Homo sapiens: one gene and its partners. The protein of the gene in region 1 purifies or fractionates together with the protein of each later gene. This does not show direct contact. Each region holds a gene or a part of one and is shown in the gene's direction. Other genes may lie near its edges. The genes, in order: BET1, NAPG, VTI1A and STX18.

Region 1 (7,304 bases):
TACTCTACTCTCTTGCTTCCCTGTGAATTTCACTGCTCAATTTAAATGTTTCATTTTAATTCTATCTGTGGATATATATGTCCTCTGTATTCACTCATTCCCTCCTTTTTCTCTACCAATTATGGCCCTATTTCCTTTGAAAATTTCTTTCTGAGGACCAGGGCCAGGTTCAGGGGCCTGCAACCTTTGCAGTTGCATAAGGTTCCTTAATCAGAAGGCCCCCAAACTTGGCTTAATGCTCTGTGGTCACTGTCTTGAAATTCTTAATAATTTTACCTTTGGCCTTAAGTTTTGTATATAAAGTCTTATGGAACAAGAGATAGTGCCCACGATTGCAGGAGATATGTACAACATGCATTTTCATTGTTCTTTGCCACTTCATTTGAATATTACATTTGCAGTGACCCAGGAACACAGAATGCCAGTGGACCCATGACGCATGGGAGTTCAGAAACACTCAAAAAGAGTACAAAAGGTGTGTTAAGTTTGTGTCAGAATAAGTATGGACACTGACAGCCCCAAAAGGCCACGTGCTCTGCTTGAACCAGAACTTCTTCCACAGAAAGAAGAAAATGACCAAGGAACTCTATCACATACTTTTTTATCTTACATTGTTGTGTTAGCCAATTGTATTAAAAATGATGGCATAAAAGGAAAAGAATAGATAAGGCAACCCCTTGCTCTCTTTCTTTTAAGTCCCTCCTAACTCATCAGTAGGCTGAAGGTAGAATGTTGGTAGAGTATGTGCCTGTCAAGACATGAAATAAAATCTGTTGACTTAGTTTTGATGCAGTGTTTTGACTGCTCTGCCATGGTAAGAATGAAATACAGATTCATGTGTGAGGTATCTATTTAGGCCATTCTTGCATTTTTATAAAGACGTACCTGAGACTGGGTAATTTATAAAGAAAAGAGGTTTAATTGACACATGTTTCTGCAGGCAGTACAGGAAGCATAGTGCCAGCATCTGCTCAGCTTCTGGTAATGCCTCAAGGAGCTCTTACTCATAGCAGAAGGTGAAGCGGGAGAGGGCAGGTTACTTGGTGAGAGTGGGACCCAGAGAGACAGGAGGTGGTGCCACATACTTTTAGACATCAGATCTCGTGTGAACTCACTCAAGGGGATGGTGCTAAGTTATTCATGTGGGATCTGCCTCCATGATCCAAACATTTCCCACCAGGACTTACTTCCAACACTGGGGATTACATTTCAACATGATGTTTAGTTGGGACAAATATCCAAACCATATCAAAGTACAAAATACCAAATGTGTAATTTTAGTGATTTCACGAGTAGCGTGCTCTTATGTTTGCATTTAAAACTGTCATTGCACAATATAAAGATCAAGGGTAAAATTAATGCTAATAATTTATTTTTTTCTTTACTCAGAAGAATATTAAATAGCAAATAAAAACACCATGACAAGTTGGTGTGGGGAGGGGAGGAACGATGGTAGGGAGATTACAGAAGAAAACAGAAGAAAGAGAAGTTTTGTATCTTAATACCTTTAACTGAACTTTTCCCCTGTTTTCTGAACTAGAGGCACAACATTTTCATTTTGCCCTGAGCCCCACAAATTATGTGTCTGGCTCTGCTGAGGACTTTAAGGTTGGAATTGTGTGCCTAATTTTTACAAACTATGGCTGAAAAGCTTGCCATCAGTGCTAGTAATATTCCCAAATTATGGAAAAGACAGATCAAATTGGTGACTTTTTGCAAACTCCTTGAAAATATTCTTCGCATTCTTAAAACTTTTAAGTAAAACTCATTCTTTCTCAAACATGAATAACCAAAATAATTTTTAAACACTCTATTTCTTCTTTAATGGCTTTGCTTTATTTTATCACAAGTATTACAACATTATTTTCCTTCTATTGGTCTTGAAAATACGCGGTATTTCTGCTGTCCTATGGGTTACACAGACTTTGATTGGCCAGCATAGTAACTCTAACAGCCATGTGTTTTCTGGGCTGAGTTGGGAACCTGACCATCATTTCAGTCTTCAGGGAAAATGTGCTTTAAATACCAAACAACAAACTTAGAAACAAACTTTGTCCCATAGCTTGTTTGTAAATCAAGAGCTTTTTGTTTCTAGTTTACATTTTGTGACAGTTCAAATATGATACCCGAGATACTGAATTTGCTTCATGATTGAAAAATGTGTTAATGTTTATTGAACCAGTTTTGAGAGCTTGGTATGCTCTTTTCCCTTGGATTGGACTTGAAATTTGGTCAGGAAGAGGTAGGACAAATGGGCAGGCAGGAAGCAGACAGATAGGAGAAAGAAAAGTTCCAATTTTGCACCTCGATTCAGACATTTCCTGCTTTTATTCTTGCTTTTGTAATTACTAGAAGGAATACTTAATATTATTTTAAGTAATTTTTAGTCCTTTATCTCCTAGAGACCTACAAACATTAGATGTTTTCTGTGAGACTATCCTGTGAGAATAGAGAAGAGGTTCTAAATGCTATTCATCTCTGTGAAATTTATTTGCTTTCAATCAGTAAGAAAAGTTAAGGATTTTAATTTAAAAAGGAAAAAGCACAACGAGAAAAGTGAAAATGATTCCCTCTGATCGCTAATGTCAACTATGGTCACATTTAATAATTCTTTTTCTGCACATTGAGTTCATTTTTCCTGCCTCTTCCTTTGAGTGCAAATTTTTTTCAGATGACATTATCCTAATTTGATACTAGCAACGTTAGCTAAAAACAATAATTGGATTTTTTAGGTAACAACTTCAATATGAACTAGCTTTGCCTTACTTCAGTTATATTCTTAGTACATTATATATGTTTTCCTTTTAACTACATTTCATTCTTATGTCTTCCTACCATGTAAAGGAAGCAGTATATTTTATGTAATCTAAATGATTAGTTCTAGTAAATATTACCATATTTTCAAAAATAACGATTTCTACATTTCCATCAGCAAGCCTTCTGTAAGGCAATTTTTAAACGTTTTAATTATAGAACATGCATTTTTTTAACCAAAGGACTGTCACAGATTTTAAGTTATAAAGGGATACCTAGCTATCATTTCTTTTATTGAATCTCCATCTTTTATTTGTAATAATTGTCCCTGATATTATGCTTATTTAATTTCATTGCTTTTAGAAAATGGCGGTTTTATTTTAATGATTTTTTTCTATCAAAACACTATTGGATAAAGCCTCCTTCCCAGGTTAATAACTCTTATTAAAAATTGTTTTCATGTGTTTTTTACAAAAGCAACTTAACGCAGAGACTTATGCCAGTATTATAGTCAATGTTAATAATGTCCTGGGAAACTATGAGGAAACGCTAAATGATCAAAGATCACATATTCGGAAATCTCTAGTGTGGAGACGATTCCACTGCCATATATACAGCAGCAACAACAAAACCGCAGACACCCAGTGAATTTTGATCACCTACTGTGTATCAGGTTTTTTTGTTTTCCCTTCAAAAACCACGATTTCATCGTATTCTCACGATAAATCCTCTGAGATAAAATGAAATTCTAGGATTAACCTCGATACCAGTAACACCTCCAACTCGCCAACAAGTTTTAAACCCCTAATTGGCACACTGCCTTGTGTAAGCAGTATTTCAATAAGCTTTGTGTAAGTTAAAAAAAAAAAAGTGGGAGAGCGTTTAGGGGTCCTTTGGTCCCCATAACAACTAAAAGTCTTGGTTCTTTCTAGAAGTACAACAGATGCAGTAACAGGGAACTAACTATTCAGTGCCTCTGACCAGATCCCGCAGCCTTTCCTAGTCTGCTCTCATCTGAGCAGGAGTCCTACTCAAAGGAACCTGGTTTTCTTTCCTTTACTGGATACTACAAGGCACAAATCGGTTACTTCTGTGGGTGTCGGATTACTTGTTTGTAAACTGAGAAACCTGGACAAAGTTTTCTCTAACTTTCCCTGAATCGTCTCTGGAGGTGAGAGGGAGTTCGAGGCTAAATCAGGAAAGATACCCCAACCATCCTCTTGTGGGTGGGGAGGAGCAGATCTGCTGGGTTAAACTTGGTGGTCAACAAACTGAAAGCAGCGACCCGCGGGCTGCGAGCGGAACAGCGGGAACGTTGGATCAGAGACCCAGAATCAGAGCCGCAGTCGAAGCCGCCCCCTTTTCCGGACGCCCCGTCCGCTCCTGGAACCGGGTTCACATCACGCCCTCAGCAACACGTTATGCGTTGGTGAACTACATTTCCCAGAATGCCTTTCAACCTTCTTCCCAGGGCTCCAATGAGCGCCGTGGTGACGCCATCATCCGGCGCGGTGTTTAGACTCCACTGATGTCGTGGCGCTTTAGGGGAAGAAGTTGGTGTTTCGCTGGGCCCTGGTACTGAAGACGCGGTCCGGGTCGCCCCTAGCTGTTTCCTACTCACCCAAAGCCCCGCACCCGCCTTTTCTCTCTCTCCTCTGGCAGGATGAGGCGTGCAGGCCTGGGTAAGAAGAGGGCTGAGGTTCGAAGTTCGGGGCCCTAGAACCGGGAGCGCTGGGGCGCGGGAGGAAATCGAACCTGTCTTATGTTCCTGGCATTTGGTCCAAAAAACAGGATGTCTAGAGGGGATCTTTGGGGTCCATGTCGAGTGGAAACACACCATTTGTCCCAGATCTTTGGAATTTCCTTAAGTTTGAGTCAGATTCAAGTTTGGATGGTAGGCTAGAGAAAGTAGTGGACTAGGGGTGGGTGTGTACAGGTGGCATCTCAGTGGTCGAGTGTTTTAGTGTTATTGACTGAGCGTGGTTATGGACGCTGCTATGTTTTCCAAAGCCCGACTCCGGTTTCTGTTTCCCTACTGGCCCTGGATCTTAGTTTCTTCAGAAGCGGAATTTGAAGAGTGGGTGGTTGCACCCAAAGCACGCTAGTAATGGTCGTTAATCTGGTAACAGTGAGTTACAAAGGTAAATGTATGTGTCATTATTGTTAAAGGTCCTGGAACTGGAACTTCTGGGTCAAAGGCGATTTCTTAATCTGAACCTTGTGCCACGGTTAAGGCAGTAGAACGTGGTTAAGGTTTGGCGACTTAACATTTGATCTTTACCTTTGGGGTTAGGAAACTGGCTCATCAGCAAGAATAAGTTAGACACAAGGAATTTTAATGGACCCTTATAGTAACGCACAGCTACTAGAACGGCATTTTCTGGTTCTGAAGCTTTCTCTTAGGACACGATTTTTTTTTTAAAGAAGACCCCGCTAAATTAGAGTGCAGTATACTTCAGAAAATAAATGAAACATTTGAAAAAAGATATTACCTTTCTCAGTCATTATAAGATTGAAAAAAGAAAAAAAAAATCCCCAAAGTGTCAGATATTTAAAGTCAGTGAAAGTTGCCAATAACCGTAGACTTGTTTATTGATCAATAAATTGTAGTATGAGAAAGTTTTTTGTTTTTTTAATGAAGTTTTTATGAATACTTAGATCATAGAAAATGGGGCCAGGTAAATTGAAGAGAAAAAAAAAAGAAATAATTTTGAGCAAGTTTAGCTTTATATGTCTAAATGTTTTTCTTGTTCATCATCCTTAATACCAAAAAAGATTTATTGTGTGCTTGAGTAAGCTCTAGGTATACAGTTGTTTGTTGCCCTGTTTGTGATCCCCAAAGCTTCCAGTCTAGGTGGGGAGTAGGAATATGTGCAAAGATAAATTGTAGTACAAAGTGTCGCTATACATCCAAATACCAGATAAGTTCTACATATAAGGGATGGTCTCAGAGATTTCAGAGATAGATCACTGTGTACTTTGTGGGGAAGATCTTTGTGTATTTGGTGGAGACATAGGAATTTGAAGTAGACCTTGAATAATGGAGAGTGGGGGAAGTGAGTTCCAGATAGGAGGAACTCAAAAGAAGTAAGGGATTATGATTAAGCCAGTTTGGGTGAAGTAGGGGATTCGGGATCACACTGTGGAGATCTTTGCATGCGAGGCCAAAGAGTTTGGATTTCATCAGTAGGCCCCTAGGCCCTTTTGAGTATTTTCCTGCTGCAGTGTGCCATGTTAAATTGCAGGAAAGTGACTTGAGTAATGGTTCTCAGCCCTGACTGTACATTAGAATCCCTTGGGAAGTTTTTAAAGTATTGTTACCTGGACCTCAGCTCAGCCAGTAAAATTAGAATTTCTCCAATTTAGAGCCCACTACCTTCTCCTTTTTTCCTTTTTTTTTCTTTCTTTTTTTTTTTTTTTTAAAAAAAAGCTCTTCTGTGATTGAGAGGAGAAGTAATTACCTAGGTAACTACTATTGCTATAATTTACATTGGTGTGAAGTGACAAAGGCTTTTGTTACACATTTTTTCTTTTCTTTTTTTTTAAAGTATGAATGCATATTGACCTGAAATTTTAAATTTGGGATCATAGTGAATCTGATACATATCCATAGGCAGAAGCTGCCACACTTCACATGAATCTCTAAATGGTTTTGTTAGCTTACTGATAGAACCTATCCAAAAAAGTAGCGTTTATCTAAATAAACAAAGGCTGAGGATGATCTTCAGTACTCACTAGCTTTTTTACAACTTTTCATAGCAGTACACCACCAGAAGAGAAGTGGCTTTGTTTGGAATAGCAATTCTAGCATTTTATTTGGTTTTTACTTTTGTCATTGTATTTGGGATGGGTCATAGTTTGAGGGAAGATCAACTCTTTAATAGGAATGTGCATTGATATATTTCTGGACGATAAATACAACAAGAATTTCACTTTGAATAAATGGAACAGCATGGAAGAACTCTAAAATTAAAATTAAGATAGGCAAAAGCAACTAAACAAAGGAAAGAAAAAATAGCAGTTAATTTATAATGAATTCCTTGGTGAAGTTGTCAAATGTTTGAATTCAACCAGTCAGTAATTACTTATTGGGTAAATGTTATATACTCAGAACCTCAGCCACACAAAATAAGAAGACATTCTTTCTTTAAGTATCTTGGCCCTTATTAAACTACAGTTTGCACAGAGTATCATTGGTTAACAGAGTAAGAATGCATTTTTAAATGGTGATTTTAATATTTGACTGAGCGGAAAAATATGCCCACTCCTTGAGTTCTTTTATAATAAAACATGTGGAGAGCTTCATGGATAGTGTGTCATGGATAGTGTGTCAGCAGCAAAATTCAGATAGTACAACTCTCTTCTGTTTGGAAAATACTTCTTCAATATTTTGTTGTGGTTTTTGTGGTGGTGGAGATTGCATAGGTATCTGCTGCATATAAAGTACTCATTAGGTACAGGGAGGATATGGAAGCATGAGATACTGTCTTTGCCTTCAGAGAAGCATATGATTCCATTCTGGACAAAGGTATGCACATTCAAAGTTCAAT
Region 2 (3,238 bases), on another chromosome or scaffold:
GTTAGGATTCTAGTTATCCAGCTTTTAAGAACATGTTCTGTTGTTGACAGTATGCTAAGCTGGGCCTGAGTTTGGTGGTTCCAGGAGGGGGAATCAAGAAGAAATCACCTGCAACACCACAGGCCAAGCCTGATGGTGTCACTGCCACGGCTGCTGATGAAGAGGAAGATGAATACTCAGGAGGACTATGCTAGTATTTTGCTTGCTGAAAAGAAAAGGGAAACAAAGGTAAAATCCTGACATGCCATTTCAAGGACTTGGGAATAGATTAGGGATATCCGTACTTCATTACAGTCATGATTTTGGATCCTAATAAAGACTAGTTTTTAGTTACCATCTTCCCAAATCACTCATTGTATCCATTACCTGTGAAGCATATCTTTTTCTTTCCATAAGAGCTTTTCTAAGACACCAGCAGGAATTAACAGAAAATGTACTGTCATGTTTTAATACATTGATTAAAAAATTTGCAAGCCAAATTATACATAAATTATGTTCTAAACAAAAGGGGTAATAAGCATAGGTATTCTCTCTTGGACACTTGTAAGTTACTGTTAGTGAATTGTTTTTTACGTTTCATTTAATAATTGCTGCTAAAGGTGATGTTTACTGATAAATCATTTTAAAATTTTTTTGTTTTGAAAAGTAAATTTATCCCCCATGATGTTAGATACATTTAAATTATTAAGTCTTTTCAGAGATGAGATGGGGACAGGAAGTTATTTTGAGCCTTACAATATTATTTAGCCCAATAAAAGATGCATTGAAGCTCTTATATATTATGAGTTTGAAAAATTTTGAAGGTAGCATATTGAAGTGATCTATAAATATCTTCAGTCCTCTCTGAAGTGTGGGTATTTCTTCTATCTAAAAAATACATACAGTGACTGTCTTCAAATCTACTTGGTTCTTGACCAAATAGGAGCTAATGGGTAATGAATACCTTTTTGTTTGTTTGTTTGTTTGTTTTGTTTTTTGTTTTTTTTTTTAAGGGTCTCACTCTTTTGCCCAGGCTGGAGTGCAGTGGCACAATCACGGCTCCCAGGCTAATGTTTTTATTTTTAATTTGTAATTTTTTTTTTATTTTTTTTGTTGAGATGGAGTTGCTCCATGTTGCACAGGCTGTTCTCAAACTCCTAAGCTCAAGCCATCTGCCTGCCTTGGCCTCCCAAAGTGCTGGGATTGTAGACATAAGCCACCTCACCCAGCCTATGAATATCTTTCTAACATTGTAAGAATGAGGTAATGTTTCCATCAGTCTAATACAGATATATTTCTTCCCTCCAAAACAGTTTATTTTGATTGTTTATTTTATTTTGATTGTAACTCCGTCATAACTTGACATGGAAAATGCTATATACTATGAAAACTTAGCTGAAAGGGAAGAATTGTTTTAGAAAGACAATATTTAAAACACCGCACTGCCAATATATTGATCCTTTATAGTTATTTCCTAAAATGCTGTTTTCGAAACATTCCTTTTTCACCCTGTTGTGTGGCTTAGACCCATCTCGTAATCTGTTAATTGGAAAGAGGCTACAGACACCAGCAGTGTGCGTTCTGCAGGTACACGCTGCCAAAGTAATTCCTGCTCATCCATGCCCTGTCTCTGTCTCTTTTAGAGTCATACCTTATTTGAGTATAGGTTGCTTAATTTTGCTAGACTTCCTGAAAACACTAAGGTGGAGTATCAGAAGTGATTTTAGTCACAGTTCTGCGGGAGAGCTTAGAATAACATCCTCCTTTGGGAGGTGGTCTCGGGTGCGTGGATGTTGGTATACAGTCTTTATTGTAAGTCTGATACAAAATGCTAATAAATTTAATGTTTTTCTTCCTTAATTTATTGGCATAGTTCTTCAGGTAGCACCTCATTTTTATTAATGATATTGGGATTAACTATGAACAAGCTATATGTAGACATTTGCATTTAAGGACATTGCAGTGTTTCAAAGATCCCATCATTGCAGCTTGTATCCTTTAGATCCAATCGGAAACTTCTGGAGTCTTACATTAATGCTCATTTGAGCTAATTAGTAATCTGTTTAAACAGATTTGGCAATACTTTAAAGATACTGTAGACTATTTATGTATAGATAGATCATATTACCCATTAAAGTCTGGGGGAAAAAATTTTTTAATTTTACTCTTCTTATGTACTGAAAACTTTTTTTAAAAAAGGTGATGATGAAGTGCATTCTGTAGCAGCAGCGCAGCTATGCTTTAAACCACACAAAAGGCTGTGTCCAGGTGCAGCCTCCTTCACCCTTCCTGCCCACGGTGAGGATTGAATAACCAGGACTTGGGGATATTGTTTGTTGTCAGGGTTATTCTGTGTGGTAAGGAATATTTGTTTCACATTTATACATTTTCTTTTTCCACTCACGTAAGTTTCTATCTTGAGAGCATAGTCCAAAGTGCAAAACTTGGTGTTTACAAGGAAAATTGTCTTCCAGAACTCCACTGTCATCACTTTCACCAAAGTGGAAGTTTGCATGAATATGCTCAGAATCTAATATTCAATGTTCTGTTACATTGTAAGTGAAGTCCAGCTACAAAATAGATTTAATATATTGAATTTATTTGTACATATGCAGAGTACGGTATTTCTGTATGGAATCTGCTTTATTCCTATTTTTCCCAACTCTGATGAGTAGAATATTAAATGTGTTGTTATGGAAATACAGATTATTGCTTCTATAGGAAGATAATTATGAAAATAAAACCTGAAACTATATAAATATAATTGTTCTTTGTATTATTTATTTTGTTTAGCTTGTTTTAATTTTCTTTTTTCCAGGGACACATTCTCTTAATTATATGACTTCAGCATTATTTTACAAGGACAGTATTTTGTTATCTGCAGTTGTCTTTTCTGCTCTTTGGGAGTAAGGTACCTTTGGGAATTTAAACTGTTTGAGCTTCTTAAAATACCAGTCATTCAGTTATTGTAATACTACATATACTGCTGTTTGGTGAGATGAAAGACTAATACCTCTTCCAAGAGAGTAATTCTTTGATTGGGTTAAGTGAGATAAAACCATGTATGATTAGGAGGCTAAGAGAACTGATGTGAAATTGTTTACATAATTAGCACCTTAAATACTAGCAGATTTACTTACAATCAGACATTTATTGGATGCTAACTATGTAATATTATCCCTGTCTTTCATGGAATGGAAATTAATAATATAATTTGATACCTGGATTCAGGAGAAGTTGAAGTAAGAAAGAATGCAGA
Region 3 (6,922 bases), on another chromosome or scaffold:
ATCTTTTCACTTGTAACAAGGAAGAATTAAATCTATTTATTATCTAGATAATTTAAGTATAAAATGGCGATTATGGACACAAGTATTCTGACAATATTGTTTATAATATGGTAACCTTGCAGTGAATAGAAGTAGCACTAATGTAGTATAAGCAACAATGAAAACATCAGTAATTAGTTGATCAGTCCTCGCTGAACAGCAAGAAAGACAGGTACCTGTTACACTTTCTGCAGTGATGTGAACGTGGTGCCTTGTATGCTTGGCAGACTTTACAATACTGGAGATACATGGTATCCTGAGAAATTTCCTTGGCAGCAAAACAGAAACAAAAATGCATCATCGGATACTTGAATATAAGTATGATTCCTACGGTATGATTTTCTTTTATGGGCGATAGGGGAAGGAGAGAATCTTAACTTGCATTTCCAGTCCTCTTATTTGAGCTAAAATATTTTTAAATAAGTTTTCTGGTAAGAGCAGCATCACTTTCCCAATTACCCAGAAGTCCTTTTAAATTTTTCTTCCTTGTGCTCCACCTAAATTCAGTGTCACTAGTTGGTTCTACTTACCCCAAATCTTAGTGGATTCAGGAGTTCAGAAAAAGGTAGCTGACAACTTAGCAGGTATTTTAGAGTGAGGAGTTAATCGTGAGTTGATAGTCCTACTGAAATCTGCTCCCTCCTTGACATTACCCGTCACCACCCCTTTCTTGGGCCATTTTAATCACTTCCTAACTAGTTTCCTTTACTGTAGTTTTTCTTCAGCACAAACCGTGTATTGTCAAAATAATATTCCTATAATACACCTCTGACTGTGTCAGACTCTGCCTGAAAACCCCTACAACTTTCTATGGTCTACAATTTCTCATGTATTTAAGACTGTCACAATCTGCCTTTGTTTCAGCTGTCTCTGCCCTACATGATCTTTTCCCCAGTCACACAGGGCTGTCTACTGTTTCTGAATACGTGGTCCCACCATTCTTTCAACCTGAAATGCCCTCTTCCCCATCTCCTTTGGAAATTCCCACTCCTCCCTCAGGTCCCCAACTAACAATGCTCAATTCTTCTAACTTTAACAGCACCCATCACGTTCTACTTTATAGTTTAGTGATTTGCACAAGTGCGTTTGTTTCTTGCTTAGGTTATAAGCTCTTTCAGAGTTCAAATTACATCTTACCCTCCTCTGTACGCATTTTGAATAGTACATAGCACATGATATACACCAGTGCTTCCCGAACTTTAATATACCTAAGCATCACCTGGGCACTTTATTAAAATAAAGATTCTGCTTCAGTATGTCTGAAGTGGAGCCCAAGATTCTGCCTTTCTGACAAGCCATCAGGTGTGGTCCCTTAGCAGGAAACATGGACATTCATAAGCATAAATTTCCCAGTAGTTTTTAAGCTATAAATGGATTTGGACTATACTTCCCAATGTTATATTTTCAGTGCAATGATTTTAAAACTTTATGATTTAAACCAGCAGTTTCTAAAGCGTTTTTCTCAGTTCTAAGGGATGTTAATGTATTACATGAAAAAAGGTACTACAGCCAAACCTCACTGTGTATGACATGTGATGTTTCCTAAACTTTTGACCATGAACCTATCCCACCTCCACCCCACCTCCATCTTTTTTTTAATGCAGAGCAAATATTCAATAAAATTGCTTTGGAAAATGCTATTTTGGATCAATGTGTTCAAACAGATATGAAATAAAGTCTCCGAGCCTAAATGATCAGTGATTAGAGTAATATACTTAGTCTCTGTGAGGACAAACAGTAGGCTGTGTTTGGTATTATTGGTTAGTAGATAAGGCAAAAACCAAATATACGATTATCATTAAAGTTCATTGTCTTACAGAATCTTTCTTACCGGTTTCCACCCCAGAGGGACAAAGCCCGGACCGACAAACATGGCATTGAAGTAATTATAAAGAATCATGACAGTCCAATTTATCAACATGATGAAATTCACACTTCCTCCAGTTGTATGTAAGGGCCAATACCACAACACAGAGTCAATCATGGCCATGGTAGAACATATTGCTATAACACCAAGGGCTATGATGGGACCCCAGTGACACAGTCTCTTTAATTCTTGTAGATTTTCAAACTTGATAACCGAACAGAATGTACCCATTTTGGCAAGGAAGAATGCCTTCCTACTTTAAAAGAATTATAGATTTCCTTTTTCTGTGCGCACATTTCCATGTGCCACAAGTCCATGTGTGTTCTTTAATTGTCATGCCTTCAAGCTGTGAACTGTTAACGCAGATTACACCATTTTCACTGTCAGGCACCCAAAGCTCTTTATCTTAACTAGGAGAATCCAGTGTCTTGGTCTGAAACCCAACCTAAAGAAAACAAAATGGGAAAGTTCAGTTAAAACAAAACAAAACAAAACCTTTATTGCATACCATACTTGTTAACTACAATAAACACCTACACAACAGCATCTCACAAGTGCACTACACTTTGGGATGCATATCTTGTCAAATGTCAAAAAGAACTACTTTTGACTTATCCAAAATATGGTACAAGTTTGAATGGCATGCAAACTGGATACACGATTCCAAAATAGTTTTTTTTATTCCTTCTCCGCTTGTCAGGGGACTGTCACCATCCAACGCTTAGTGAATAGTTTGAGAAGACAAAGAATTTTAGGACCTTAGAGTTGATCTAATTCAGTTTCCTTCTTCATAGAACAGAAATTGTCTTAGAGAGGCTGAGTGATTAGACCAAGGTCACAAGTAACAGGTGAACCAGAATAGAAGGCAAGTCAACGACCTCCCTTTATGAAATTCTAAGCTGCCTCTTATGAAGTCTTGAATTAAGCCAAGTATGAGTCAGACATGGTCTATGCCATTTGCCTGCAGTCTCCTCCACCCCGCCACCCAAACATCAAGAGAACAGTCAATTTGGCCCAAAAGTAAAGGAGCGACAGTGAAAGCAAAGAGAGCATGCAAGGAAAGGAAGGGAGGAGATAGAGCGAGAGTGTGTGTGGTGTGTGTGAAATTATGACCAGAAGAGTATATGAGAAGAACCTGAATTAGAAGATTCGAGGGAAGAAAGAAGAGGAAGTGCCTCCAGGAGCGAGGGAAATGGAAGGCAGGGCGGCGAGCTCCGGAGAGATTTGTGGAAGGGCATCTCTGCCTGGACTGGATCTGAAGATCTGGAAGAGGATCTGAGCTACATGGATAATACAGACTACCACGCAGCAGACGCTGTTGACTTGTGCCTCAGTTTCCCGCCCGAGTCATGGAGCAGAGGGCTTAGAAATAAATCCTCACCCAAGGAAGAAATATCCTGGTAAGCCAGGTTGGTCTCAACATTCAGGAGAGCCTGCTCCCACTCTGGTGGGACAAAGACCACCAAAATCGTGCTTATATTCCCTGCCTTGACTCCCACCTCAGTGTGGTCCCTGGTGTCTGCTCCTCAGCCATCGCATATCCGGGGCGGCCTGGGCTCACCCGGAACAGATTTTTTCCTCCTTGGATGACTCCGTCATGGACACCTCAGCCCAGGACAAGCAGAGAGCAAACCCTGGCAGCGAGAGGCTGGAGTGCGGGACCTGCTACAAGCCGAGCACCTCTCGGCCAGCGCCCTCGCCAGGACTCTCCCGCTCAGGCCCCCTGCGCAGTCTCTGTTACTGTCACTTCCGGAGGTTCGCCGCCTCAAACCTCCCTCCGGAAGCAAGCTGCTGTGCCTTGTAGCGTGTGGATCCGGAGCCGATTCCCAGAACACGAAGGGGGGAAAAAACGCTTCTAATGATCCCTCAGAACTTGCATATTTTCATACGCTTTTCTGGGGGGAGGCACTAATTGGGGCGCTTTTCCTTTGCGAACTTACTTATCTTAAAGTCGGAGCGGAAAATAAAGCACGCACGCAACCCAATTTCCGGAGAACCGAGATTGCGACGAACAACCAGGAAGCGGCTGGGTTGAGAGCTGTCCCCGGTTCTCCGTTCTGCTCTCGGGGGCACCTTCCGGGGTTCCTAAGCCGCGGGGCCCCTCGCTGCCCCTCGAGGCCCTTTCCCTGACCTAGGCTTTGGCCTGGGCTACTCGTTCCGGAGCCGCCATGTCGTCCGACTTCGAAGGTTACGAGCAGGACTTCGCGGTGCTCACTGCAGAGATCACCAGCAAGATTGCGAGGGTCCCACGACTCCCGCCTGGTGAGAGCCTTGCCCGGCTGGACGAGGGTGCTGGGGAGAGCTGGGAGGGTGCGGGCGGTGGAACGCCGCCCGAGTAAGTGTGTCTATGAGGCGCGAGGCTGGAGTGGGTGGTGCCGGCTGTTCCCAGGAGGGATACGGCTTGGCTTGGTTGAGGGTAAGGAGTCAAGTTCGGGTGTGGGGTGCCGTGAAAAGAGCCTTCGGAATCTGAGCCATCTGAGTTCGAATCCCGGCTCTACCTTCTTGTAACTTGCATAACCTGGAAACGTTTCTTAACGTCTTAAGAGTCTTAATGTTTTCATTTGTAAATTATAGACATGTGAGTATTCAAAGAAAATGAATGAAAGTATGTAGCCTATGGATCTACAATCTACAGCGGCGTTGTTGTGTTAGTAATAATATTGTTATAATTATATGCGGCAAAATAGAGGTAAGAATCAGGGTGCCTAGATTCAAATCCTACCTCTGTCACTTAGAAGTTGTGCCTCTTAACCCGGGAGGCGGAGGTTGCAGTGAGCCAAGATCTCGCCATTGCACTCCAGCCTAGGCAACAAGAGTGAAACTCCGTCTCAAATAAATAAATAAAATAAAAGTTGTGCCTCTTAAACAGACTTCTTAGTCTCTTTCAACTTTCCTTCTTAGTAAATGGGGGAAAATTGTACTTCTCTCATGGGGTTGTTAGGTAGATTAAATTTATATAACATATTTAAAGTCACTTTTGGTGTTGTTAGTTGCTGTATTAGCATTAGTATTTTTCATACCCCCCACCCCCATTTCTTGTTTCTCATCCTTCTTGGGGATTTATTGTATAACCCAGTTTCATGTAAAACTTGGTACAAGATAATTTTTCACACTTAAAAATTTCACATCTCCCATCTGGAAATGTTTTTGTTTTTGTGTTTCCTTTTGTGTTTTAGCACATCTTATTTTCTATGCTAGACTGTCAACTATGTGAAGGTGGGAGCTGTGTCTGATTTCCTTGGCGTTTACTTATTAGGGGCTCAGGAAAATAAGTGAATGAGCAGGTGAATATAAATATGATCTTTTGTAACTATGGTTTGTACAATGTTGATTCGGGGACTATCTTTCTCTACAGATTAGAGTAGTTAGTTACAGAAAAGGGTTTTACATTTTTGTTTAGTTTTGTTAGGGAAATTGAACCATCATCTGGCTGCTAGACTTGTCCCTACCCTAGCTCCAGGATATAAAGTGTAGAAAGGTGGATGTGCTCATTAATCTGCGGATTGGTGGGCACTTCACTTGCCCACTTGTCCTGGTACTAGCAATAATTTCTCCCGGACCTAAGTTGTCATTCCTCTTTCCCTTTCCCTACTTCCCCCAAAACTTATGTGTTTATAAGTAATTTTCTTCCCTTATTTCTTTGTTTTTCTTCCCCTCACCTATTTTCTGTTAATAGGGATATTTGCTTGAAGCCAGGATCTCTGAACTTATACCCCACTCATCTCCTGAAGTCCCCAGTTAGTTCTGGAGGAGATGGATGATGTCTTAAAGAGGTTTATGAGTCCAAGTAAGGGAACAAGAGGAGAGAACCAAGGTAGTATATACCACCAAGCTCTGCTGCCTCAGAGATTTTTGTGTCGAAAGTGGCTGATGGCCTCATCTCTTCATGATACATCACCTCGCCTCTTCTCTTCAGTTCTGCTTTTCTCCACTGCCGGAGATCGTCTTGATTTTTGTTATTGTTGGAGACTACTTCCTTTGAATTGAGTCCCAGAGCCTCAGAGTATCAGGACTTGTGGTTCCAGTTAGAGTTTTACTCATTTTTAATTGTAATTGTTTTAGCAGTAGAAACATTTCTTTGGGTTATTAGTTTTTGTATTGGGAAGCTGTTTTACAAGGTAACAAAATCATCCTTGGATGCAAAGTTGTAAATTTCCAAGAAAACAGATCGTGTTACAATTTTTTTCTTGCCTTTATATTTTAATGTGACAATTCTTAACACATAGAAGGAAACTTTTTGAATTCAGTACCTTAAAAATAAAACTGGGCAGAGCCCGGTGGCTCATGCCTATAATCCCAAAACTTTGGGAGGCCGAGGCAGACGGATCACCTGAGGTCGGGAGTTTGAGACCAGCCTGGCCAACATGGAGAAACCCTGTCTCTACTAAAAATACAAAACTAGCTGGGCGTGGTGGCACATGCCTGTAACTCCAGCTGCTCAGGAGGCTGAGGCAGGAGAATCGCTTGAACCTGGGAGGTGGAGGTTGCGATGAGCTGAGATTGCGCCATTGCACTCCAGCCTGGGCGACAAGAGCGAAACTGTCTCAATAAATAAATAAATTAAAAAAAAACTATGTCTTTCCTTAGCTGTAGTATTATATAAGGCCCAAACACAGGAGCTTCATTACAATTGAAAGGAGACTGCATTGCTGGCTCTGGAAGAATGCTTACTGACTTGTATTATTGAATAATCATAATTCTTTTTTCTTTATGAGATGGGGTCTTGCTGTATCGCCCACGTTGGAGTGTAATGGCGCAATCTCAGCTCATTGCAACCTCTCCCTCACGGCTCAAGTCTACTCCCACCTCAGCCTCCCGAGTAGCTGGGACTACTCAAGCCACTGTGCCCGGCTGATTTTTTTTTTTTGTAGAGATGGGGTTTTGCCATGTTGCCCAGGCTTGTCTCAAACTCCTGGGCTCACGCAATCCACCCACTTGGGCCTCCCAAAGTGCTGGGATTACAGGCGTGAGCCACCGCACCTGGCCTGATCATAATTCTTAAAAACGCAGTAGTTG
Region 4 (7,052 bases), on another chromosome or scaffold:
ATTGCAGTCCCTACCTTCCAACAACAGGCTGATTGCTTCTGCATCATTCTTTTAAACATTTAACTTTTATGCTCAATTTTACTAAATTTATATATACTCAAATGCATGTCTACCCATTAAATTACAAATGGAGAGTAACGACTTTTCAGATTATTTGGGGGAGGAACTTATATTATTCGAACAACTCCAAATAATAATGAATATGTCACTCTGCAATGGGAATTTGATTAGTTAACTCATTTGAAGTGTGGGACTAGTGAGGATGATGGGATTGGAAAGAGACCTGGGCCTTGGGTTCAAATCTCGCTTCTGCTACTTAGAAATGGGTGAACTTGGGCAAGTCTGACTCTCGTTTTCCATTTCTATAAAGTGGACGTGATAATACCCTACTTAACTCACAAGCTAAGTAGGGTAGCTTCTGAGTTACCCTACTCACATAGTCTATATGTATGTATTTTAAAAAAACAGACTGATTATTATTGTTCCCCCAAACTACCTCCCCCCTCCTCATGTAGGCCATTTAGACATATTTTCTTTAGTGGCACCAAGCTGTATTTTCCAAACCACTTAGTTTTCTTGCACTTTCATTCCTTAATTTAGTTAAGTGCGTGAGGAATGAGTGAAAATCCTGAGCAGGTACTGATGAATCAGCGGTGGTGCAGAAGTACTGTCTGCATTCGTAAAAGATGGTAACATTTCTTTGCCAAGGTGAAACTCTTTCAGTGATGGCAGATGTGTGGCAGGTATGCAGCTTTTACTTTCTTTTCTTCCTTGTGATCATGGAAGCCAGTGCTAATTTCTTAGTGGATCCCTATAGCTCAGAATCCTTTGCAACATTGTACCCCAGGAGCCGTTACCTGTTATTAGGCTTGACATTCAAGTTGAAATCTACTTGACATATAGTAACAGTAGAATCTGTATGCTTAAAGCAGACCCATGTTTGTTTGTTTGTGGTTTTTTTTTTTTTCACTCAAAAGGACCTTGTGTTCATTTTGTTAATAGATAAGAAAACTAACACCCAAATAAATGAAATTACTTGCCCAAAGTCGTAGCAGTTGAGGTCATAGCACAGAGCCATAAGTAGAAGCCAGGTCCTTTGACCTGGTTTAATGCTGCTCTCCCTCTGCCCACTACATTCTCCTGTAATTTTTAAACCAGAATTTGTTTGGTTTCTGAATGGCAGTGAGTTTCTTCTTCTTGAGTTAATTCTGAATACTGCATACTGAATGGAACCTGGGGCAGAAAGACTTGGATTTGAATGTGTCTTATCTGTTATATGAACTTGGGGAAGCCACTTAATTTCAGTTACCTTATGGCTAAAATAGAGTGAGTAATAGCAACCTTATAAAGTTGTTAGGTGAAATAAGAAAAGGTATGCAGGTGCCTACATGAGTCCGAGTTCTTTTGTTTGCAAGTAATAGTAACCTAATGTAAATTAACCTGAACAAAGTGGGAATACCTTAGCTCATATAACTGGAAAATTCAGGGATAGAGCTTCTTTCTCTAGCTCTTATCCATAAAGCCCAGGAAGGAAATCTAGTTGGTTCTGCTTGATCCTCTGCTCTCTCTTACAGTAGTCATTATAGCCAGAGGAATGTTTCTTTAATTGGTCAGGTCTATGTCCACCTCAATCTGTGGTTAATAGGTGGCTTGGATGCTATGTAGCCCCCACCAGAATCATGGAAAAGGCAGTGCCCTGTCTGGGAATAGGGAGTAAGGAATGTTGGGCAAGCAAAAGCAACAAAAACATCCCTCACAGTGCCTGGGACAGTGCCTGATGTGCCTTCACCTTGCCTGCCTGGCTGTCTTCAACTCTGTGGGGAATGAGAAACTAGAAAATGCAGGAGTTTATAATGACAGGTTCTGGGGTGAGGATAGGCCTAGAGATGCCTCATAGTGGCAGCTCTTCTATTCTCTTACTGACTTATAAAGGTTACAGGAGCCAGGGGGGGCTACCACACAGGTAAGCAAGAAACCCGTAAGCACCGAACTGCTGTGCAGAGGCAGCAGGGGCTACTGAAGAGCACCGCACAGGAAAGCAGGAACCCATGTTCTAGCCGCAGGTCTGCCAGTAAGTGGGCTGCTCATGTGATTTCTCTGGGCCTCAGTTTCCACATTAGTAAAACTGAAAGCTTCGATTAGATAACTGCAGAGATTTCTTGTAGAATAAGGACACTTTGATTCTAAATAAGGTAATAATGATCCTGAATTGCTGGGAACTCTATTTTCAGATTAGGCATGCAGATGAGATTTTGTTCTTGATAATACATTCTTTTGTGGAAGCTAAACTTCGTTTTTTATTTACTTATTTTTAGGAATTGATTATCTTGAATCTTTGGCTGAAATTCAGAGTTCTTGGAGTGGCCCAAAGCCAGATGATCTGGCCCTGCTCCCTCTCTGGCCTCACCTCCTCTCCCCCTCCTTTTGCTCACTCTACTCCAGCTATTCTGGCCTCTTTCATTTTCTCACATGCATCAGGCACATTTCCCGCTTAGAACCTTTGCATCCCTCTACCTGGAACACTTTTCTCCTAGATTCCATATGGCTTGATCTCTCAGTTCCTCAGGTCTCTGGTTAAATGTTGCCTCCGTGAGGCCTTCCTTGAATGCCCTGCGTAAAGTGGCCTCCTTTTTCTGTCCCTTCCCCTAGCAGATCATATATCCATTTATTTGTTGTTTGTCTACTCGAATATATGTTTTCTGAAAATGAAGAACTTTGTGTTGTTAGCACTGAATCTGTAGCTTCTAGAACAGTGTGGGGATGCAGGTGCTTAATAAATACTTCTTGAATTAATGAATAACTGTTAATCTACTGTCTCTCTCAGTTTTGGGGCTAGGTGATCTCTGTCCAAGGCTCATTGCAGTTCTAAAGCTCTGTGATACTCACATGATTCTTGAATATTACATGATGCACATTTATACTTAGTCCGGTATTAAGAGTAAACATTCAGTAAATAGTAGCTTTTATTACTAAGATTCCGTTCCTCCCTCAACACATTTACATTCTAGTGGAAAAGCAGACACAGGTAGCACAACAACTCAGGTATGAGTAACAACTGTAACTTTTTTAGCATTGATTCCCCAGGTCCTCCTTGATTTCCTTTTCAGAGGCAGTGTTGACTTTCTGTGCCAGTGTTGGGACCCAAAGGTTGAGCTGGGACCACCTGGATTATAAATTTTACCTAAGGGTTGAGTATAATCATAGTTAGGGGATTTCAGTTGAGGGAGCATGATTCAAAGAAGCAGTATCATGCAACAGGTACAGTGAGTCCATGAGAGGCAGGAAGGACAGGAGATAGGGCCAAACCATACAGAAGTAGGATTGGGAAACAATGGAGGTTTAGAATGCAAGCTGTGAACAGAGCATGAGTGTGCTGAATCATATAGATTTCTTTTTAAATATGGCAGGAACCTTTTAGCTAATGAAATAAGGAGCAGCTTTGGTAAAAGCTGGAGTGAGAGGTTTGGGGAGAGAGGTTCATTCGCCAGCCTACTACCCTTCTGTTACCTTCCCCCTCTCCTTGAGGAACCCCTAGGAACCAACCAGAGGGCCCAGAGACACACAGTTTAAAAACCACTGCTTTAATGCTCTCCAGGGCCTGTTTTAGCTTCATGATGCTGTGTTTTTATGGATTGCAATAACTGAGTGTGTACTATAAGGAGAGCTCAGCACTGCAGAGTTTTCATGAGATTGTGAGTCCTTTGTGTGGATTACACTTCTGAATTTTGCCCAAGACTTAGGAGGACTGTAAGTTTTGAAATGTATTTATTCAATAATTGATTTATACCATCATCCAATAAACACTGAACATCTGGTGTGTCAGGCATTGTGGGGCCATAAAAAAACTATGAGGCATATTAACCTGTTCTTTGAAAAGATAGATAAAGGATACCTAAATCTCTTTAGGGGAGAATCAGTGGAAACCTCAAAGTGATCATCAAACTTGGCTTTTAAGGAGAAAAACCATTCCACCAGACGTAGGTAGAAGGGATGGGTGTGAGCAAAGGCAGTGGCACACAACAGTAGGGCAGTTTGGGGCCAGAGGCAAGACTGGTGTGACTAGAGCCCTTTTCTGGAGGAGGCCCGGGTGAGGGTCAGAGTGTCAGGGGGTGAGGTTGTACTGAAGTAGGTTAGAGCAGGGGTCCACAAACTGGCCCACAGGCCAAATCCGGCCCACTGCCTAGTTGTGTAAATAAAGTTTTATTGGAATATGTCATTTTCATTTGTTTAAATATAGGCCAAGAATGCTTTCATGCTGTAGCAGCAGAGCGATAGCCTGCAGAGGCCTGCAAAACTTAAAATATTTACTGTATGACCCTTTAGAGAAAAAGTTTGCCAACTCTTAGATGAGAGCGTTGTTAGCAGTGCTGAGGAGTTTGTACTTTATGCTCTGGGCTATGCGGCAGAGGCACGAAAGGATCATGTTTGTATTTTAAACTAATCCGCAGTGTTGATGATGGGTTTGGAATGTAACAAGACTGACATGGAGAGCTAAGCAGGATGCTGTTGCAGTAATTCAGGTGAAACTGAGGAGCCGGTGACAGTAGGGTTGGATGGGAGAAAAATAGATGAAGTAGGTATTTAGTATTTAGTAGGTAGGCTCAACAAACTTAGTAAAACTTAGTAACTAATTAGTGGAAATAGAAAGAGGAGGAGGTAGAATAATTTCCAGCTTTCTGGTTGAAAAGTTAAATGGTAGAAGATTACAATAACAGAGTTTTCAGGGTTAGAGTTGAGTGCCAGTTATTCATGCCTTCTTCTTAATTCTAAATAGTAGAGAATAGATCCAAGGAGCCCATGGACACTGGAGTTTTATTAAGACAGCATGTGGTGGATAACTCCCCAGCAGCAGTGCTTACTGATAAACCTGGATTGAGGAACTCAATGGGGTCCTTCAGCTTTGCCACATTTAGACCTTGGAGACAGTTGAGTACAAAATAGATACCCAGTGCCTATGTACCTATGCCCAGCCAGTTGCATGGAGATTGAGACCTGTCTCAGCAATACGGCCATCACTAGGCTGGGACTTATGGTGGCGAGAAGTACAAGGAGGTAGAAACTTAGGATGGCCCGTGTGGATGCCAGGTTCTCTCCTGTTATTCTCAGTTCTGCTTTCTTTATTCTTGAATGAAACTCATCTTGGGGTTAATGATTATATCACATGTTGTAGAAGCATGATTCTCAGGGATAGTTGATTCATTTTCTCCTGCATTCCATGAAGAATCTGGAGTGTGTCAAAGAGTTCCCTCTTTCCTCACTTTTGAGTTGGCAGTTGACCAATTATTATGTGTCTCACCTACTAGGGTAGGGCTGCAGAAACACGTCTTCTCAGTGTGACGTTTTTAGTGAATTCTTCCCATCAGGGGCTGGCTTCATTTTGGAGGCCCAAGAACCAGATTTTTCTACATATTGAGGCTAGAGCCATCTGTTAGGGCAGATATCAGCCAAGCTCACGTCAACTTGTGTGTAAGTCAGAATACCAGTTAATTTGTTGTAAGCACTGTAACTAATGTGCAGAAGAATACAGATTTTGGAAACTCAGTCATTTTTGAGCTTCTGCTATAGGTCAGGAACTCGGTTAAGGACTTTATGTGCCCGATCTCATTTAATTTTTCTCTTTTTCAGGGGATAGAAATATATTATTGAGTGATTTTATAATATTGATTGTATTATGAATAATGTGGTTGTTGAATTCATGTAAACTTGATGTTTGACGTCTCTTACTACATGGAAATCCACATGGACTCCCTCTGGTGGGTAAAGTATCAGTGAAGTCTACACATGTTAATTATGGCTTATGGTATGAAAACCATTTTATGTTTAAAGCGTATTACATTTAATATTGACTTAAAAAGAGGCAACTTCAAAACTCCTCTAAAAGAAAGTGAATAAACCAGAGGAATGAAAGTATGATATATTGAATGAACCCAATAACTCAGATATGGAAAGCTTGCAGCACAGTTGAAATTTTAAACCCGGCAATACTTTTTTCTTTGTTACAGACTTTCAGATCCTCAAAGACTATGAATACTAAAGTTTGCCAGCTTCTACTTATCACCATCTAACATATGTCTGTTTGTCAAAATGTTCTTACCATGGAATTTGTAAGCTGTATTTAACCAAGAGAGAGACACTTCCATTTCACAATATTGTAACATTTCTATCTAATTTGTAGTCAAATGATAAGAAAACTCTGGTGAAATGAACACTTGCCTTTTCTTGGACATTTTCTCCAGCAGTGAATTCTATAGTCTTAGCAGAAGTAACAGGCTACAGCATATCTTAACTCAGAGGAATTGAGAAAGGAATTAAAAAGTGTACGTTTCGAATTGTAAATACTTTTGGCCTTTGCCAATAGCTTACTATGTGATCTTGGAGAACTCACCTAACCTCTCTGGGTGTCACTCTTCTGATTTTTTTAATGAGAGGTTTTGACTAGATAATCCATAAGGACCTTTTCAATGAGATGGTTGCATGACTCAGTACTCTTTATCTGAAAGTCCCAGGATGTATTTTTAAATACTTTTTGCAGTGATAACTGCCCATTACCTTGTGATATTTTCCCTGAGTCTCTGAAAGAGTGAGGTTTTTTTTTTGTTTTGGTTTGTTGTTGTTGTTGTTGTTTTCAAAGTTAGCATTTTTGGTGTGTTTTCACAAATGTATTTGATTTAAAAGTGGTGATATAATTTTATAATGGAATTTTATTAGCAGGGCACATTTTTGAAGTTGACTATTTTAAAATCTGATTATAAAATTAGTAAGTGCTCATTAAACAGAATAAAGAAGAAAATAGTTCACATTTAGTACCAGTGTCAGGAAATAGCCATAGTTAAAATTCTGGTGTTTAACTTTCCAAACATTTTTTCTGTTAAATAAAATCAAGATTCTTCTACAATACGGTTATGTAATCCCTCTCCATATGCCCTCCCCTCTTCCTTGGGGGAGTAGAGAGGGGTTACATAACAGTATTGTAGAAAACAATGTATTTTGGAAATTTTTAAATATCAGTATGTATTGCTCTTACCACCAGTTTATTTGGCTGCATAGCTATT

Evidence for each region.
Region 2: the proteins of BET1 (region 1) and NAPG purify together in Homo sapiens (affinity purification with mass spectrometry; 2 studies listed by BioGRID and IntAct, with this or other methods). This does not show direct contact.
Region 3: the proteins of BET1 (region 1) and VTI1A purify together in Homo sapiens (affinity purification with mass spectrometry; 2 studies listed by BioGRID and IntAct, with this or other methods). This does not show direct contact.
Region 4: the proteins of BET1 (region 1) and STX18 purify together in Homo sapiens (affinity purification with mass spectrometry; 4 studies listed by BioGRID and IntAct, with this or other methods). This does not show direct contact.

Annotation. Positions count from the first base shown.
Region 1 is NC_000007.14:94,001,330-94,008,633, reverse strand, and holds the start of BET1 (BET1 homolog), read left to right. Parts: upstream 1-4,278; 5' UTR 4,279-4,417; coding exon 4,418-4,436; intron 4,437-7,304. UniProt on the Homo sapiens protein: Required for vesicular transport from the ER to the Golgi complex. Functions as a SNARE involved in the docking process of ER-derived vesicles with the cis-Golgi membrane.
Region 2 is NC_000018.10:10,550,027-10,553,264, forward strand, and holds the end of NAPG (gamma-soluble NSF attachment protein), read left to right. Parts: intron 1-50; coding exon 51-194; 3' UTR 195-2,738; downstream 2,739-3,238. UniProt on the Homo sapiens protein: Required for vesicular transport between the endoplasmic reticulum and the Golgi apparatus.
Region 3 is NC_000010.11:112,443,300-112,450,221, forward strand, and holds the start of VTI1A (vesicle transport through interaction with t-SNAREs homolog 1A), read left to right. Parts: upstream 1-3,915; 5' UTR 3,916-4,074; coding exon 4,075-4,168; exon of another isoform or gene 4,169-4,273; intron 4,274-4,480; exon of another isoform or gene 4,481-4,484; intron 4,485-5,082; exon of another isoform or gene 5,083-5,190; intron 5,191-5,582; exon of another isoform or gene 5,583-6,922. Other genes in the region: palmitoyltransferase ZDHHC6, read right to left, coding at 216-307, 1,871-2,137. UniProt on the Homo sapiens protein: V-SNARE that mediates vesicle transport pathways through interactions with t-SNAREs on the target membrane. These interactions are proposed to mediate aspects of the specificity of vesicle trafficking and to promote fusion of the lipid bilayers.
Region 4 is NC_000004.12:4,532,018-4,539,069, reverse strand, and holds part of STX18 (syntaxin-18), read left to right. Parts: intron 1-7,052. UniProt on the Homo sapiens protein: Syntaxin that may be involved in targeting and fusion of Golgi-derived retrograde transport vesicles with the ER.